Regions from separate parts of the Homo sapiens genome. Here region 2 is linked to region 1. Evidence: fine-mapped expression QTL. A gene starts in region 1. The other region holds a variant in brackets. All regions are shown on one strand. Distances are from middle to middle. Region 1 holds the start of METTL22 (methyltransferase 22, Kin17 lysine). Region 2 overlaps METTL22 (methyltransferase 22, Kin17 lysine).

What was found. PIP is the estimated chance that this variant, and not a neighbour inherited with it, causes the effect.
Region 2: its variant is fine-mapped to the expression of METTL22 in whole blood (INTERVAL, PIP above 0.99).

Annotation. Positions count from the first base shown.
Region 1 is chr16:8,616,848-8,625,179 of GRCh38, reverse strand. It overlaps METTL22 (methyltransferase 22, Kin17 lysine), which reads right to left and starts at 3,482. Exons shown (of 11, transcript NM_024109.4): 1 at 3,405-3,482.
Region 2 is chr16:8,642,486-8,650,817 of GRCh38, reverse strand. It overlaps METTL22 (methyltransferase 22, Kin17 lysine), which reads right to left. Exons shown (of 11, transcript NM_024109.4): 9 at 8,253-8,332; 10 at 6,093-6,261; 11 at 1,164-4,710. The coding sequence ends at 4,675. Among named protein-coding and RNA genes, the nearest start is that of METTL22, 25 kb to the right of the region's middle. The variant T/C (reference allele first, on the strand shown) is at 4,698.

The sequences.
Region 1 (8,332 bases):
TTTTGCCCCTAAATTATTTAATGTCTGTCCCCTAAGAGCATTTCCCTATATAATCATAAGACCATTAGCAAATCTAAGTTAATTAATAATTCCCTAATAGCATTAAAGTCAATTTCCTCCATCTGTCTCCCAAAGGTCTTTGAGGTTTTTTTTCCCCCAGAAACCAGTATCCAATCACAATCTGCACTTTGCATTTAGTTGTTATGGCCCTTTACTCTTTCTTTTTTATTCTAGAAGCTGTTATCAACTGTCCCCACATCATTTGTTGTTATAAAGCTTTCCTATTTTAAACAATGTTTTATTTTTAAACATTTCTTTTTACAGACAGGGGCTTGCTCTGTTGCCCAGGCTGGAGTGCAGTGGTACAATCATGGCTCACTGCAGCCTCAAACTTCACGCGATCCTCCTGCCTCAACCTCCTTCATAGTTAGGACTACAGCTATGCCACCATACTTGGCATTAAATTTTTTTTTTTTGTAGAGACAAGGGTCTCACTATGTTTCCCAGGCTGGTCTCAAATTCTTGGGCTCAAGCCATCCTCCCATATCAGCTTCCTAAAGTGCTGGGATTACAGGCGTGAGCCATCATGCCTGGCTTAAAGCTCTGCTACTGAATTTAAAAAGATGAGTGGAATTAGGCGGGTGTCGTGGCGCGCGCTGGTAGTCCCAGCTACTTGGGAGGCTGAGGTGGGAGGATCGCTTGACACCAAAAGGCAGGGGTTGCAGTGAGCTGAGAATGCGTCACTGCACTCTGCACTCCAGGCTGGGTGGCAGAGCAAGACCCTGTCTCAAAAAGAAATTAAAAAAAAAAAAAAAAGAGTGAGTGGATTTAAAGGAAAAGTAGTAAGGGAGTCACTACACTGGTGATACACAGATATGGCAAAATTATGCAGGTGACACATTAATAACTAAAACTTGGAAAACCATGGCTGAGGCAAAGTGGTCAAGAACAGGTGGGACCTCCCTCCAACCGTTTCACCTAATCAAAAAGCATCATCAAACAGCAGTAGTCTGATGGGCTTTGAAGCTGGACAGACCAGGTGGGGATCCCTGGTTTCTCACCTTCTAGCCATGTGATTTCAGGAAAATCACTTCGCCTCTCTGCATCTGTTTCTTCAGCCACAATCTCACGCAGTGTTACTGGGTGGGTAAACTGCTGAGCAGAGTCCTTGGCTCACAGTAGGTGTTAATAAAACACCAGCAACCTCCTTGTCCTGGGGTTGGTTTCAGGTATTTGACCCAAACCTGCCTGTAACCCCTGACTGCCTATAGGAGCTGTTCCTACCTGGGTAGATGTCATGAAATCTTCAGGGCCCCCACTTCTTCAACTGCAAAATGAGGTCATCATGACTCAGGCTGTCCTAATGATCCCAGTACACTGCTGGAGTTCCTACATTTAAGTGGTTGCTGTGGGGCAGCAAAAGCTGTCCCAACAAAAAAATTTTTAAGAAAAAGATGATTCCTTATTCATCTCCATGCTAGCTTTCCTACTCAACACCATAAAGCCATCAAAATGCAAGTGGGTTGTAAAGAAAGTCTGTGAATCTGGCAAATCAATGCAGAATTTCATGGTGTCATTGAAAGTGATGGAGAAATGCTGGACCTGAAGGCCAACACTCAATCAATCGGACTGGCAAAACCACACCAGATTCCAGAAGAGAAAATACAGCTTATACCTACCACTCATTTCAAAGGCAGATCAAGCTCTCTCAGGACTTAGAGATGTCCTGGGGGAAAACTGAGGACTTTCACATACAGTTTTTTTTGAAGGGGGTGGGGAAGATCCTCTCTAATATTGCTGTAAAAATCAAAAGTGAACCAAAGGATGCCATTTCTTTTTTTGCCATAGCGCATTTTTTTTTTTTTTTCTGAGACAGAGTCTCACTCTGTTGCCCAGGCTAGAGTGCAGTGGTGCCATCTCGGCTCACTACAACCTCCGCCTCCTGGGCTCAAGTGATCCTACCTCAGAGTCCCGAGTAACTGGGACTACAGGCATGCACCACAATGTCCACCTAATTTTTGTATTTTTAGTAAAGATGGGGTTTTGCCATGTTGGCCAGGCTAGTCTTGAACTCCTGACCAAGGTAGATCCATCTACCTTGGCCTCCCAAAGTGCTGGGATTATAGGTGTGAGCCACCAGGCATGGCCTATAGCGCAATTTTGTTGGAAAACTTACATCCCAGAAAAATCAATGTTCTTTGCTTTTTCCAAAAGTGAGCATAATATTACACACCAAATTTTAAGTATAGACACACACAAAAAAACTCAAATTCTTAATCTCTAGTTGAATTTTCCATTTTTAAATTCAACCCAACCAGGCTTCCCAAGAAATGTACGCTGCAATGTAAGTTCCAGATGAAGGAGATTCCCTTTAAGTGGCTTTCCCTAGAATCAGCTATCTGGGAATAAGGAGGCCCTCTTGAACCTATCTCAGGCCCTCATATACTCAGAGGAGTATATGAGACAATTACCACTTTTCGGGCTTACGACATATAGTAAACGTTCAATAAGCAACAATAGTAAATACTATCATTATAGTAATATAATAATGATTAAAGTGAATGCTGGGAAGAAAGAAAAAAGGTAACAGTTTCTCTAGTCAGGAAAAGTCTCTTTCCGGAAATGCAGGGTCTGTATGGGCTTCGGGCTCCTCTCTTTACTGGGCAGAGCTGAGAAAGGAGACCCAGGTTGCAGATGGGGACCTGCCCCACCACCTCTCCATAGGGCTGCAGGCTCATCCCTGCAGCAGGAGCTAACGTGTTCTTGGCTCTTCTAAGGCTGTGGGGGCTAGACTGAGACGCTACCAGCTTTCTTCTCCTATAGGTCCCCAGTCAGTTGTCCCAAATAAGCAGTGTGCTGGGATCACGGTGTTGAAATAACTTCCCTCCTCATCTTTCTTTCTGATAACTGCAACTCACTCAACAATCAATAATTTGGCGCGATCCCATGACGATTTAGGCCAGGAGCTGGGGAGGGCAGGGTGTGAAGGCCCAGGCTGGGGGCAGGAAAGACGTGGCCTGGCCACGGTGCGTAGAGTGGTAGTGAGGGGCTCCGGGGACGTCCCCCGTGGGGCTACTCGTTCTCTTTGTCTTGTCGCCTTCCTGACGCCACCCTTGTGGGTTAACTATTGCCCTCTCAAAAAACAGTCACAGGTCGGGCACTGCCCTCCCTTCCTAATCTAGAACCGAAGGAGAGGTGCCTGGACCCAGGATGGAAACCCAGGTGAGGACGTGGACTTCTTTCCCCAACACCCGTGTTGAGAAGGGGAAACTGACGCTAAGAGTGGGGTCGGGCCTTAGGGATCTGGGCCTCCGATCTGTGGGAGCTCGGATTTCAAAGTCAGGCTCGGCGCCAGGAGGTTCCCTGCACCCTACCCTATCCCGCCGCCTCTCCCAGGCACTTACCCGCCGCGGGGCCCAGCCTGGGATCCCACCCGACTCCCGTCTCTGTGGGACTTAGGCGGCCGCCATAACAGGCGGTCTGCGCAGGCGCGGCCCCGCCCCCGCGTGCGACCATCCGACTGCCCCGCACCGTGGCTCCACCTACCTGCCCGGGCCGCGCATGCGTCCGAGGGTTGCCGGCGGGCACCTGTAGCCTTCGCTCTGGTCGCGGGCGAGGCGTGTTTGCTGGGGGGACCCGCCTAGGTGGCTAAACTCATTCCTCTAAAAGACTTAAATAGGAGTTAAATAACTCTCCCAGCTACTAAGTGGTAAAGCCTGGATTCGAACCCGGGGTGTGGGATCAGAGCCGGTGCTATTTAACCAGCATGCTACTGTATTTATTATCACGGGTGTTACCGTCATCCATGCTCTTAGTACTCGTTTGTTTGTTTGTTTGTTTATTTGAGATGGTCTTGCTCTGTCACCCAGGCTGGAGTGCAGCGGCGCAATTTTAGCTCACTGCAGCCTTGAACTCCTGGGCTTAAGGAATCCTGTTTCAGCCTCTCTAGTAGCTGGGACTACAGTTGCGTGGCACCATTTTTTTTTTTTTTTGTACAGACTGTATCTTGTTGTGTTGCCCAGGCTGGTCTCAAACTCCTGGCTTCAAGCAGTCCTCCTGCTTCGGCCTCCTAAAGCTCATAAATTACAGGCATGAGCCACCACGCCCAGCCAGTACTTGTTATTATTAATAGGTGGTAGTGATTTCATTAGGTGGTAGTGATTTCGTTAATTCGTATGCTCATCAAGTTTCCAACACCAAGGGGGTGAGACAGAGTGGCAAACATAAGACTCCATGTTTGCTCGTTTTTTCTTGCCTGCAGAATTTCAGAAAGCCTCTGAGTCCGTGACTGAGCACAGCCCTCAGAAGAATCCCCTGAAGAGGATGAGCAGGATAGACCACAGATTCTCACGTCTCTTGCCTGAGTCACTGCATTTTTAGAAAAAGTACAGTCAATAATATTGGCCCTTTTCTCAATCTATATATTCAGTGACATCATGGAAGTCAGCCTGGCCACAATGGAGTAAGCCAGGGGATGGGCCGCAGGAAACGAGGATACATAGGTAGCCAGGGTTAGAACTTTTGTGACATTCTAAGAACTTTGGATTTTACTGTGCGTGAGATGGGGAGCTGCCAGGGATATACACCACACTGACGTGTTCACAGACATGCCCAGACACACACAGTGGTGCTCACTCTCAGACATGTCAGTGAACATACAAATATACACACAGGAACATATGTAAAGTCCACATATGTAAAATCTATATCCCTGTGTGTTCACATATACACACACGCACACACATGGCCTCAGCTGGCAACCTTTGTCTAAATTACTTTTTTTTCTCTTTTCAAAATAGAATTAAATCAACATCAATTTCATGGTTACTGATGATAAAACGTGGAGAGTTGATAGGGTGACTAAGCGACACAAATAAGAATTTTTTTTTTTTTTTTTTTTAAGAAACAGATTATGTTTCCTGAAATCCCCCAGGACAGTACACAGAGAGCCAGTTGGGTGTCTTGGGACCAGATTCTATTCATAGTTTTCTCTCTAGTTCGCTGAGGGTTCTCTTAGTTATCCCCAGAGGATGTTGAGTGGTGGGGAGGGCACTAGGAAGGCATTGTTCACACCCTTGGGAGTTTTGTCTTCAAATTTAAACCGGGGGAATGACCCTTAAAAATCAAAAGATCACATTCCTCCTCTTGTCAAACCTATAATCTTTTATAGGGGATTAGTGCCCCTACAAAAGAGGCCCCAAAGAGCTGCCTCACTTCTTCTGTCATGTGAGGACACGGCAAAAAGACAGCCATCTATGACCAAGAATTGGACACAGAATCTGCCAGTGCCTTGATTTTGGACTTTCCAGCCCCTAGAACCATGAGAAATGAATGTGTTTATCAGCCACCCCATGTATGGTATTCTGTTATAGCAGCCCAGATGGCCCCAAAAGGGTTATCATTTCTGCCACAAATTTTGAGGTGGTTTGCAACACAGTAATAGGTCACCAGGTAAGGGGAAAGAAAGCCAGCCCTTCTTGGCAGGGCTGCAAAGAGATGGTAGCTGGGGGAGTGCGGGAGGGGGCCCTCAGTTCCGGAGCCTCAGTTATAAACAAGGCACACTGCTGGCCCCTTCATCTTGTGGTTTTGTTTCATTCTCACACCCATTCCGAAGCTCAGAGAGGTGAAGTGCCTTGCTCAGTGTTACCTAGCCAGTGAGACGCAGACTCACGTTTTCTTTTCTTTTCTTTTTTCTTTTTGACAGAGTCTCCATTTGTCGACCAGGCTGGAGTGCAGTGACGCCATCTCAGCTCACTGCAACCTCTGCCTCCCTGGATCAAGCAATTCTCCTGCCTCAGTCTCCTGAGTAGCTGGGATTACAGGCGTGTGCCACCACATCCAGCTAATTTTTGTATTTTTAGTAGAGACGGGGTTTCACCATGTTGGCCAGGCTGGTCTCAAACTCCTGACCTCACGTGATCTGCCCGCCTTGGCCTCCCAAAGTGCTGGGATTACAGGCATGAGCCACCACACTTGGCCTCAGACTCACATTTTCAAAATGTCCCAGTGAGTCTGCTGGGTGGAGCCTTAGGGTTAAATGCCCTCCCTAGTGTCCCAGGCAGGTCTTTTGCTTTGAGAGTCTCCCCCAGACTTGGCGAAGCAAGGGTTAAGGTGCATGCTCACACACGCTGGAGTGTCCATCACTCCCACCACCTGGACTAATGACAAACCATGTCTGCAGCAGAGGGAAGGCGGATGAACTGCCAGATGTGTATTAAGAAACCAGCTTGCAGGAAATTGCTGTCGGGTGATTATTATTAGCTGGGTTATTCAGAACAGCCCTTTCTCCAAAGGTCGTGCATTTACCAAATGCTTGATGTGTTTTCCCAGTCAGCCCCAGAAAATTTTGTCCTCCTGGAGAGAGAGCTTGTCCTCCAGGACTGCTGAAAGTGGGTGATGATAATTCTGCCCCCGCCTCCCATCAGCATATCACGGCAGCTGCTTTGAATGCACAGCAGTCTGCGCTCTGGTTCCTGGTTCTGTGTGCAGAGGCAGGAGGTTGACCTTCAAGAGCACAGAGCTGAGTTCAAATCCCCAGCTCGGCCACTGATTAATTATATTCATCCATTCACTACCTAATTTTGAAGAGCTTTTCATATCCTTGGTACTTGGGCAATTGCTTTACTTCTATGAAACTTAATTTCCTAGTGGCTCAAATACTGATAATACCTTTCTTGGCGTGTTGTGAGAATGAGTGGCATATCACCCGTGGAGAGTTCCAGACAATAACTCCCTTCCATTTCTTGAGATAATCTGACAGTGTCTGTTATATTTTAAAGAACCCACCAGTTTTACTCACTTCACCACGTCACATTGGTAGATGAAAAACAAAAAACAAAATAAGTTACAGTGCCATTCATACTGTATAAGATCAATTATGTAAAATAAAAAAACCCTCACAATTATATGTTTTCTCAAGCTAGGCAGAATGTGGTGTATGCATCAAGGGATTATTATTCAGCTGTAAAAAGGAATAAAGCAAAATAAACAAAAAAGCTTTAAAAAATCAGCTGGGGATGTTCGTGCATGACTATGTTCCCAGTTACTTGGGAAGCAGAGGAGGGAGGATTACTTGAGCCCAGGAGGTTGAGGCCACAGTGAGTGGTGTTTGCGTCACTGTACTCCAGCCTGGGCAACAGAGAGAGACCCTGTATTAAAAAAAAAGAAAAGAAATAGGGTCATTGTAGATGCAAGTAGTTAAGGATCTTGAAATCATCCTGGATTTAGGGCAGGCCCTAAGTCCAATGACAGCTGTCCTTATCACAAGAGGAGAGGACTCAGAAAGAAGACAATGTGGAGTCAGGCGGAGAATGGGGTGAGGCATGTAAGAGCCAAGGATCGCCCAGGATTGCCGGCAGCCTCCATGCGTCAGGACAGACACGCGGAACGGATTCTCCCTCAGAGCCTCCAGAAGGACCCAGCCATGCTGCTACTTTGATTTTGGACTCGTGGCCTCCAGAACTGTGCGGGAATGCAGGTCTGTTGGTTAAAGTCACCCAGTTTTATTTAGTTAAGAGACTAATACAAGGTTTTAGCTAATTTGTGCCTACTGGTCTTTTTATTTGCATTCCCCTTGGCTCAGAAAGCCCACTCTCAGCCCAGTTTCCATCGTCACAACTGGTTCCTTCTCGTCCAACATAGCTTAAATTATTTTTATTTTTTATTTTATTTTATTTTTATTTTTTGAGACAGAGTCTCACTGTCACCCAGGCTGGAGTGCAGTGACGCGATCTTTACTCACTGCAAACTCTGCCTCCTGGATTCAAGCAATTCTCCTGCCTCAGCCTCCCGAGTAGCTGGGATTACAGGCGCCAGCAACCACGCCTGGCTAATTTTTGTATTTTTAGTAGAAACGGGGTTTTGCCATGTTGGCCACGGTGGTCTCCGACTCCTGACCTCAGGTGATCCACCTACCTTGGCCTCCCAGAGTGCTGGGATTACAGGCATGAGCCACTGTGCCCGACCCATAGCTTAAATATTATCTGCTCAGTTGGCCCTTCCCTGCCCATCCCATCATGTGTTGACCCCTACTATCTGCCCAAGTAGCTCTCCTTTACACACCCTTTAATCTTCTTTCTTATTTCATTTTTTAAAAGTAGAAATGGGGTCTCGCTGTGTTATCCAAGCTGGTCTTGAACTCCTGGGCTCAATCAATCCTCCCACCTTGGCCTCCCAAATTTCTGGGATGACAGGCATGAGCCACTGCACCTGGCAACTTATATTTTCTTTTTAGATCTGTCACTCTCTGGAATGACCTATTTGTTATTTATTTATTTATTTTGAGACAGGGTCTCTCTCTGTCACCCAGTCTGAAGTGCAGTGGTGCAATCTC
Region 2 (8,332 bases), 26 kb before region 1:
CCTGACCTCAGGTGATCCATTTGCCTTGGCCTCCCAAAGTGCCGGGATTACACGCATGAGCCACATCTGGCTTTTTTTCATTTATTGATAAATGAAATTTTGCATATTATGGGGTGCATATGAATGTGTTTTATATACACAGAATGTGTAATTATCAAGCCAGGGTATTTGAGGTATTCACCACCTTGAGAATTTATAATTTTATGTGTTGGGAACATTTCAAGTTCTCTCTTCTAGCAACTTTGAAATACACAATATATTGTTGCTAACTGTAGCCACCCTAGTCTGCTACCAAACATTAGAAGGTATTTCTTCCCTAAGTTTGTACCCATTCACCAACCTATCAAGAAGTTTTACTATTTTACAGGTGAGGAAACTCAGGTTCAGAGAGGCTAGGTCATTTGTCCAAGGTCATTGCTGTTACACAGCAGAGGCAGGATTTAAACCCTGGCTTGCTCAACTCCGGAGTTGGTGGGTTTTTTTTTCTTTAGAAATAGCGTCTCTGTCTGTAAGGCTGTGAGGGTGTAGTGCAGTGGCACAATCACAGTTCACTGCAGCCTAGAATTCCTTCGCTTAGGCGATGCTCCCGACCCAGCCTCCTGAGTAGCTGGGAGTACAGGTGCATGACACACCTGGCTAATTAAAAAAAAGTTTTTTAGAGATAGGGTCTCTGTATGTTGCCCAGGCTGATCTCAAACTCCTGTCCTCAAGTAATCCTCCTGCCTTTGCCTCCCAAAGTGCTGGGATCACAGGTATGAGCCACCACATCCAACCCAGAGTTTGTGCTCTTAACCAGGGATGACATGTTGCAACTTCACTCCTCACAGTGTGGCCCACAGACGAGCATCATCAGCATCACCCGGGAGCTTGTTAAACTGCAGCATCAGGCCACATCCAGGGCCTGAGTCAGAATCTGTATTTTGACAAGATCCCAAGTGATTCGTGTGCATACTAGTTTGAGAAGCTTTGGGGACCACAGTTTCACTAATGGTTTTTTTTTTTTAATTTCTTTTGAGACGGAGTTTCATTCTTGTTGCCCAGGGTAGAGTGCAATGGCGCAGTCTTGGCTCACTGCAACCTCCACCTCCCGGGTTGTAGAGATTCTCCTGCCTCAGCCTCCTAAGTAGCTGGGATTACAGGCGACCGCCACCACGCCCAGCTAATTTTTTTTTTTTTTTTTGTATTTTTAGTAGAGACGGGGTTTCACCATGTTGGCCAGGCTGGTCTCGAACTCCTGACCTTAGGTGATCCACCCACCTCGGCCTCCCAAAATGCTGGAATTACAGGTGTGAGCCACTGTGCCTGGCTTTGTTGGTTTTAACAGTTCTTTCCCATGCAGGCTGCAGCTGAACAGCCAAGTCCCCTCCTTGGGTCACATATTTTTCTGAAAATGTTATAAAAAAATTGAGTCCACTGGCCTGGGCTAATTACCTAGCAGAACATCCCCATGGTTTGGTGATTCTGAATATCGCTGCCAAACAAGCACTTGTAGAGGCTCAAACAAGGCCATAAAACATGGCAATGGGGGCGCGCTCCCACTCTGGGAAATGAAAATCTGACGATACTTTGAATTACAGTGGATCAAGATTAATTCCAGGCTCTACTTAGAGGAAGCTTTCAGGCCCAGTGGTTTAGACATAAAAGCAGTTTGCCCTAATGCGGCAGGTGAAAGCTGTGACAACTCTATTGCTTGGTGCCAATTACATTTATGGACTTGTACCCAGGAGTGCTAGGAAATTGTCACCATTAGTGCTGACGTACTGCCAGTTGTTGGCTCTGTCTAGTGGGGTTCTGATTTGAAGACTCATTATTAATATTCCCTGTAGTGATCTGCAATGCTGCTCCATTATGGCAAGTCTGTCAGGAACGGAGTTTGTGTAGGAATTTTAGAAAACAGCAATAGGTTGAGGGCTATGTGGTAGGCCCCAGAGCTTCTCAAACTACTGTGCACACAAATCACCCAGGGTCTCGTTGAGATGCAGATTCGGAATCACGTCCTGAGCTGAGGCTTGATACTTTTCTTCTTTTTTGGAGACAGGATCTCTCTCTGTTGCCCAGGCCAGAGTGCAATGGTGCAGTCATGGCTCACTGCAGCCTCAAATTCTTAGGCTCAAGCAATCCTCTCACCTTGCCTTCTGAGTAGTTGGGACTACAGGCGTTAGCCACTACGCCTGGCTTTTTTTTTTTTTTGAGATGGAGTTTTGCTCTTGTTGCCCAGGCTAGAGTGCAATGGCATGGTCTTGGCTCACTGCAACCTCTGCCTCCTGGGTTCAAGTGATTCTCCTGCCTCAGCCTCCCAAGTAGCTGGGATTACAGGCATGAGCCACCACACCCGGCTAATTTTGTATTTTTAGTAGAGGCAGGGTTTCACCATGTTGGCCAGGCTGGTCTTGAACTCCTGACTTTGGGTGATCCACCCGCCTCGGCCTCCCAAAGTGCTGGGATGACAGGCATGAGCCACCATGCCCGGCACCTCGCCTGGCTTTTTAATTTTTGAGATGTCTGGCTCTGTTGCCCAGGCTGGAGGGCAGTGTTGCGATCTTGGCTCACTGCAACCTTCGCCTCCCAGGTTCAAGCGATTCTCCTGCCTCGGCCTCCCAAGTAGCTGGGACTGCAGGCGCAAACCACCATGCCAGACTAATTGGCTGTTTAATTTTTAATAGAGATGGGGTCTTGCTTTGTTGTCCAGGCTGGTTGAACTCCTGGCCTTAATTGATCCTCCTGCCTTGGCCTCCCAAAGTATCGGGATTGCAGGAGTGAGCCAACATGCTCAGCCTGATGTTGCATTTCTAACCAGCATCCACGTGATGCCACAGATGCTGCTGCTGCTCCAGCGGGAATGTGGGAAAAGCACAGGCTCAGGAGTCAGATGGACATGGGTGGACATGGGCTCTAAACCTGACTCTGCCCTTGGTTGCTGTGTGATGTTGGGCAAGTTGCTGAACCTCTCTGAATTTTGGATTTCTCATGTGCAAAATAGGGATCACTTCTGCCTTTTAGGTTCTTTGAAGATTTATAATAACGTACATGCATAGGTTTTCTTCTTGCTCCCAGAGGGGCAGGGTGAGGTCACTCTCCTGCATGCTCTCACTACAGGTTCAGCTGAGACCGTTTTTCTTCTCTAAAGTACTTGGCTTTCTTCTTCCAAGTCAGGATTTCTCCGCCTCGGCGCTACTCACATTTTGGGCTGGATCATTTTGTGTTGTGGGGGATGCTCCGTGATTACCGCATTATAGAACGTTCAGCAGCATCTCTGGCCTCACCCACTGGATACTGGTGGCACCCGTCTCCCCTACTTGTGACCACCGAAAATGTCTCCAGGCACTGCCAAATGTTCCTGGAGGCAAAATCACTCACAAATAGGAAATAATGACCTAATTAGTAACTTACATTAGCAATTCATTCAACAATATGTGTTGAGCATCTACTGTTTGCCAGACCATACAGCAGGGATGTAGTGATATTTAAGACAAACAAGGTCCCTGACCTCATGGAGACTTTTTCCTTTTTGGACCTCAGTCTTCTCCGCTGTAATGTGGGTATCACAAGGCTGCGGACCTCCTAAATTTGTTGGGAAGATGAAGTTAGACTTGCAAGTGCCTGGCCCCTGGCATGAGGGATTAGCCAATGCCAGGGGTATGATGGGCCTAGGGATGGAACCTGGGAGCTTGGGGAGAAGCGAGTGTGGGCAGGGACAGTGCATGGAGAAGCCAGGAAACCTGAGCTGCAAGGGAGGCGGAAAGGGGCCATGAAAGGCCCTGGTGCAAAGTGTGCGGCAGCAGCAAGGCAGGGGAAAGGGGCTGCAGGGAGGGCCAAGGGTAGCAGGAAGATGGGACCAAAACTGGAGAGAAGGAGAGAGACAGTGGGACATAGAGGATGACAGGAAGGGGTGGAGATGGGAGGAGAGAGGCACAGATGGAGAAGATAAAAAACCAGACAGACAGACATGTACACACGTGATAAGACAGAGAGACCAAGGGGCGGAGGGAAAATGAGTCCAGGCGGAAGGGAACACCTCTGAGGAAGATCACTGCACAAACCCTGGTCAGCTGCACATGACCCCAAAGAGTGGCTCTTAGGTTTATTCCAAACGTACCTGATTTGGGTGATAAAGAGTTAAAATTAAATACAAAGGCCAATGCCAGTCCATTCCTGGCGCCAGCTCCTGCCTCTTCCTTCTCATGGGGCCCTCACCAGAGTGATGGGGTGGAGCATACCCAACCCTGGGAGGAAATGAGGCTTTTGTGCCGAGCGGCAATATGATGGCAATACTGGCAGTGGTAGTCAACCCATCTGTAAACAGCTGACAGAGGGCAGTACAAGAATCCACCTCACAGCCAGGGCCGCAACCGCAAGTAAAGCACACAGCTGAAATGACTGACGTGGGTGGAACTGAGCTGAGAAGGAACGTGGCTCGGCTTGACCCTGGAGCACACATCACAACCATGAGAAACAGGCAACTAAAGTGACCTCCAGCCCACAGCAACAACCTTCTCTGGCTACAACTGGGAGGCAGGGACAGACCCCAGAAAACCATCTTGGGTCATCTAAGGTACGTGTAACCATATTTTTAAAATGACAAAATCTCAAGCATGTTGCTTTGGTGAGCTTCTGATTTTACTAGAAATACACTCTAAGAACAGTCGAGACGCCGCGCCTTGTGGAGGCGATGGGTCATGTTACTGGTTCTGCGATGA[T/C]CTTCCAGAGCTCCTGCAGCAAACAGAGAAAAGAACAGGTTTCTGAAGTGCACATACAAGAGCATCACAATTTCATTAAGGAAAGTGATTCACCAAGGAGAGTAGTTAGACAACACGTCAGCCACGGAGCAGGCGAGCTGGGGCAGGAGCGGACGGGCGGCTTCCTCCTTTCTTTGTTGCTCTGGGCTGTTCTATTTTACTGTGGCAGAGAGGCTGGATGGATGAAGTCCCAGCATTAACGGAAGGTGCATCAGAGGATGTCAAACAATCAGAAGAGACCAGAATAGCAGTGAGTTGCCGTATCTCTCCATTTTGGGGGAGATCTTTATAAACAATTTTATTTTAGAGACAGGATCTCATTCTGTTGCCCAGTCTGGAGTGCAGTGGCACCATCACAGCTTGCTGCAGCCTTGAACTTCTGGGCTCAAGCAATCCTCCCACCTCAGCTTCCAGAGTAGCTGGGACCACAGGTGTGCACCACCATGCATGGCTAATTTTTTTTCTTGATTTTTGTCGAGATAGGGTCTGTGATGCCCAGGCTGGTCTCGAACTCCTAGCTTCAAGCAACCCTCCGACCATGGCCTCCCAGAGTGCTGGGATTACAGGTGGGAGCCACCGTACCTGGCCTTTTTGGGACGTCTTAGGCATCATGTATTGGGGCTGCTGACTTGTAAGAAATGTGTGTTCTTGGTCATGTGACGCTACTCTTAATGCTGCCCAGAAGTGGCAGAGCAATAAATACAAGATCCTCCTCGCACACAAAACCACACGAATTCCATGCTGCCCTCCCTCAGGACGCGAGACAGAGTGCAAGGGCGGCAGCTCCTCGTGACTCCCTCTTCCTCCCTTTTTCCTTAGAACTAGGCCCGGGTCTCCACAGACATAGAGAAAGGGAGGCCACAGCCAAAAGGCAAACAGAACAAAAGAAGTTAATTCTCAATCTTTGGACTCCAGTTAATAGAAAAGCCAGTTCAGTCCGAGAGGGGCTGGTATCCTTCCACAGTGAAGATGTGAGCAGCGGCCACCACAGCGGGGCGCCTGCACCAAGATCTGCAACCCACAAACTTCCCTCCACTGACTTCCTGTTCCCCAAACAACCTCTGCCTCGGTCTTGCCTCCTCTGGAGTCTGAACTGTCCAACGGGGGGAATATGTGCTATAAAGTAAAAGACAAGGTTCGCCTGTAGGCCCGTCTCCAGACATGGTGGCTGCTAAGAACAGGATGTAGCTCCCCCAACAGGTTCCACTACAGATGGTGCCAGGCACGCAGGCTTCACCCCCTGCAGGACTAGGGTGGAGCCTGTGCTTGGAGGGCTTGCTTCATCACCTCTTTGCCCTGGAGTCACCCGCTTCACAGTAAAGCAACCAACGGCCCTGCTTCGGGGCCTGGACCTACCAGTTGCTGGAGGCGCTCGTAAACCAGGAGCTGTGGGAAGGAGGCCTCCACGGGCTCCACCACGAAGCGCAGCTTGCCATCTGCGAGCTGCTCCAGCGCGTGCAGGCAGGAGCGGAAGTGATCGTAGGCTTCACATGTGACGTCCAAGTGTCTCAATGTGAAGTTGAGCCTGCAAACCAGCCAGTCGGACGCACAAACTGCCATCATCAATGGGAAGGGTTTTGCTGTTTCTGCCCACCTTGCTTTCCTATCCCTCACTGATCTCATATCCCCTGGACGGGCTTTTACTGAGCGCCTGTCTCATGCTGAGTGTGTGAGTGCAATTCCTTCCTACATCTGCACGACAGCCCAGGAGGTGGAAGTGGATAGCACTTTACAGATGTGGAAACAGGCTCAGAAAGCTCAGGTCACGTGCCCACAATGACACTGCTGGAAAGATCAAGACAGTCCTGCAGATCAACACTTGAGGACGCCCTCCAGGTCCTGCCTGCACCCAGCACAGAATCTGGTGCCTGGAGCTGCGCATAACTATCTGAGAAATGAATGAATGAGAGGCAGTGGCAGGGGGCGGTGCAGAGGACTCCGGGAGCACAGAGAACAGAGAGAAAACTGCTGGGAAGCTGGGGTCTGAGAGATTTCAGAGAGTGAGCACCTTCAGAAACAGGTCTCCCAACCCTGCCACTTGCCTTTCAAAACCTTAGTCTACAAGATGGTTTCACTTGAAATTAAAGCTCTTTGCCTTTTTCCCTTTTCTTTCCAAATTTTTTTATCAAGAAAAATTCCAGACATGCAACAGGAGTAAGAACAGTCTATGCTGGGCGTGGTGGCTCCCACCTGTAATCTCAGTACTGTGGGAGGCCGAGGAGGGCAGATCACCTGAGGTCAGGAGTTTGAGACCAGCCTGGACGACATGGTGAAACCCCGTTTCTACTAAAAATACAAAAATTAGCCAGGTGTGGTGACGCATGCCTGTAATCCCAGCTACTTGGGAGGCTGAGACAGGAGAATGGTGTGAACCCGGGAGGTGGCGCTTGTGCTGAGCCGAGATCGCACCATCACACTCCAGCCTGGGCTGACAGGGCAAGACTCTGCCTCAAAAAAACAAAAAAAACAAAACTGTCTAATGAACCCATTACCAGCTTCAGCCACTGTCCACTTCCAGCCACTCTGCCACCTTGGCTCTTCCCGGGGCCCCCTGCCCTCACTGAGTTATTAAAAAGCAAATGCCAGACACCAACCCATTTCCTCTGTGAAGCTGGAAATGTCAGTGTGTGTCTCAAGAAGATGAAGACCTCTTCAACTAAAGTTTAACAATCACCCTTTAACATCAAATATTCAGTATTCAACTTTTCCCAACTGTCCTGATGTTTTTCCTTTACAGTTTATGAAATCAGGATCCAAATGAGGTCTGTACATTGCTATTGCTCAGTGTGTGCCTCAAAGCAAGCCCTCGGTATTATTGGTATAAGTAACACTGCAATAAATATGCAAGTACATACAGCTTTGTACACAACCCTGAGTGTGAATTTCCAGATGCTGAATTGCTGGGTGAAGAAGTCTGTTTCGTTTTACAGCTTTTGCTGTGGATTCCGAACGATCTTCAGAAAAGCTGTGGACTACTGTTAAGTATTACAGGAGAATGTGTGTAGCTATCACAAGGTGGGCACTCAATAAATGGAACCTAACATTTCAGGATATTCTAGTGGAAATGTCTGGGTGAGGCTGTTGGGTGAGGAGCTGTCCGATTCAGCAAGAGAAAGAGACCTGGGGGAGCTGAAGAGACAGACGGCACCACAGAGAGAACATTCAGGAAGAGAAGCTCTCAACAGTGTGTGCTGGCCAAGCGTTGAGGTTCCAGTACAGTCTGCATTCAAGTCCTTGTCTATCACTAACTAGCCGTGCCCTGGCCAAGGCCCCTGATGCTTCCCAGCCTTCCTCTCTTCATCAGTCAAGTGGGACAGCAGCGCCTGCACACAGGGCTAGGATGCAGATTCAGTGCAGTAACGTACACAAAGGATGAGCACAGACCTGGCACATAGTAGGTGCTCAATAAGTGGCACTGAGTAACAATCATAATGACACTGACAAGGACACAATTAGGAGGTGAGAGTTCCGCTGACACTCGGGACGTCAGCACGGTTCCCGTGGCGCAAAGCTCACCTCTTCTCCACCGACAGTATGGCTGTGCAGGCATTTTTCAATCTGTGGGCGAGTCGGGAGAGCGTTTTAAACACAGCATC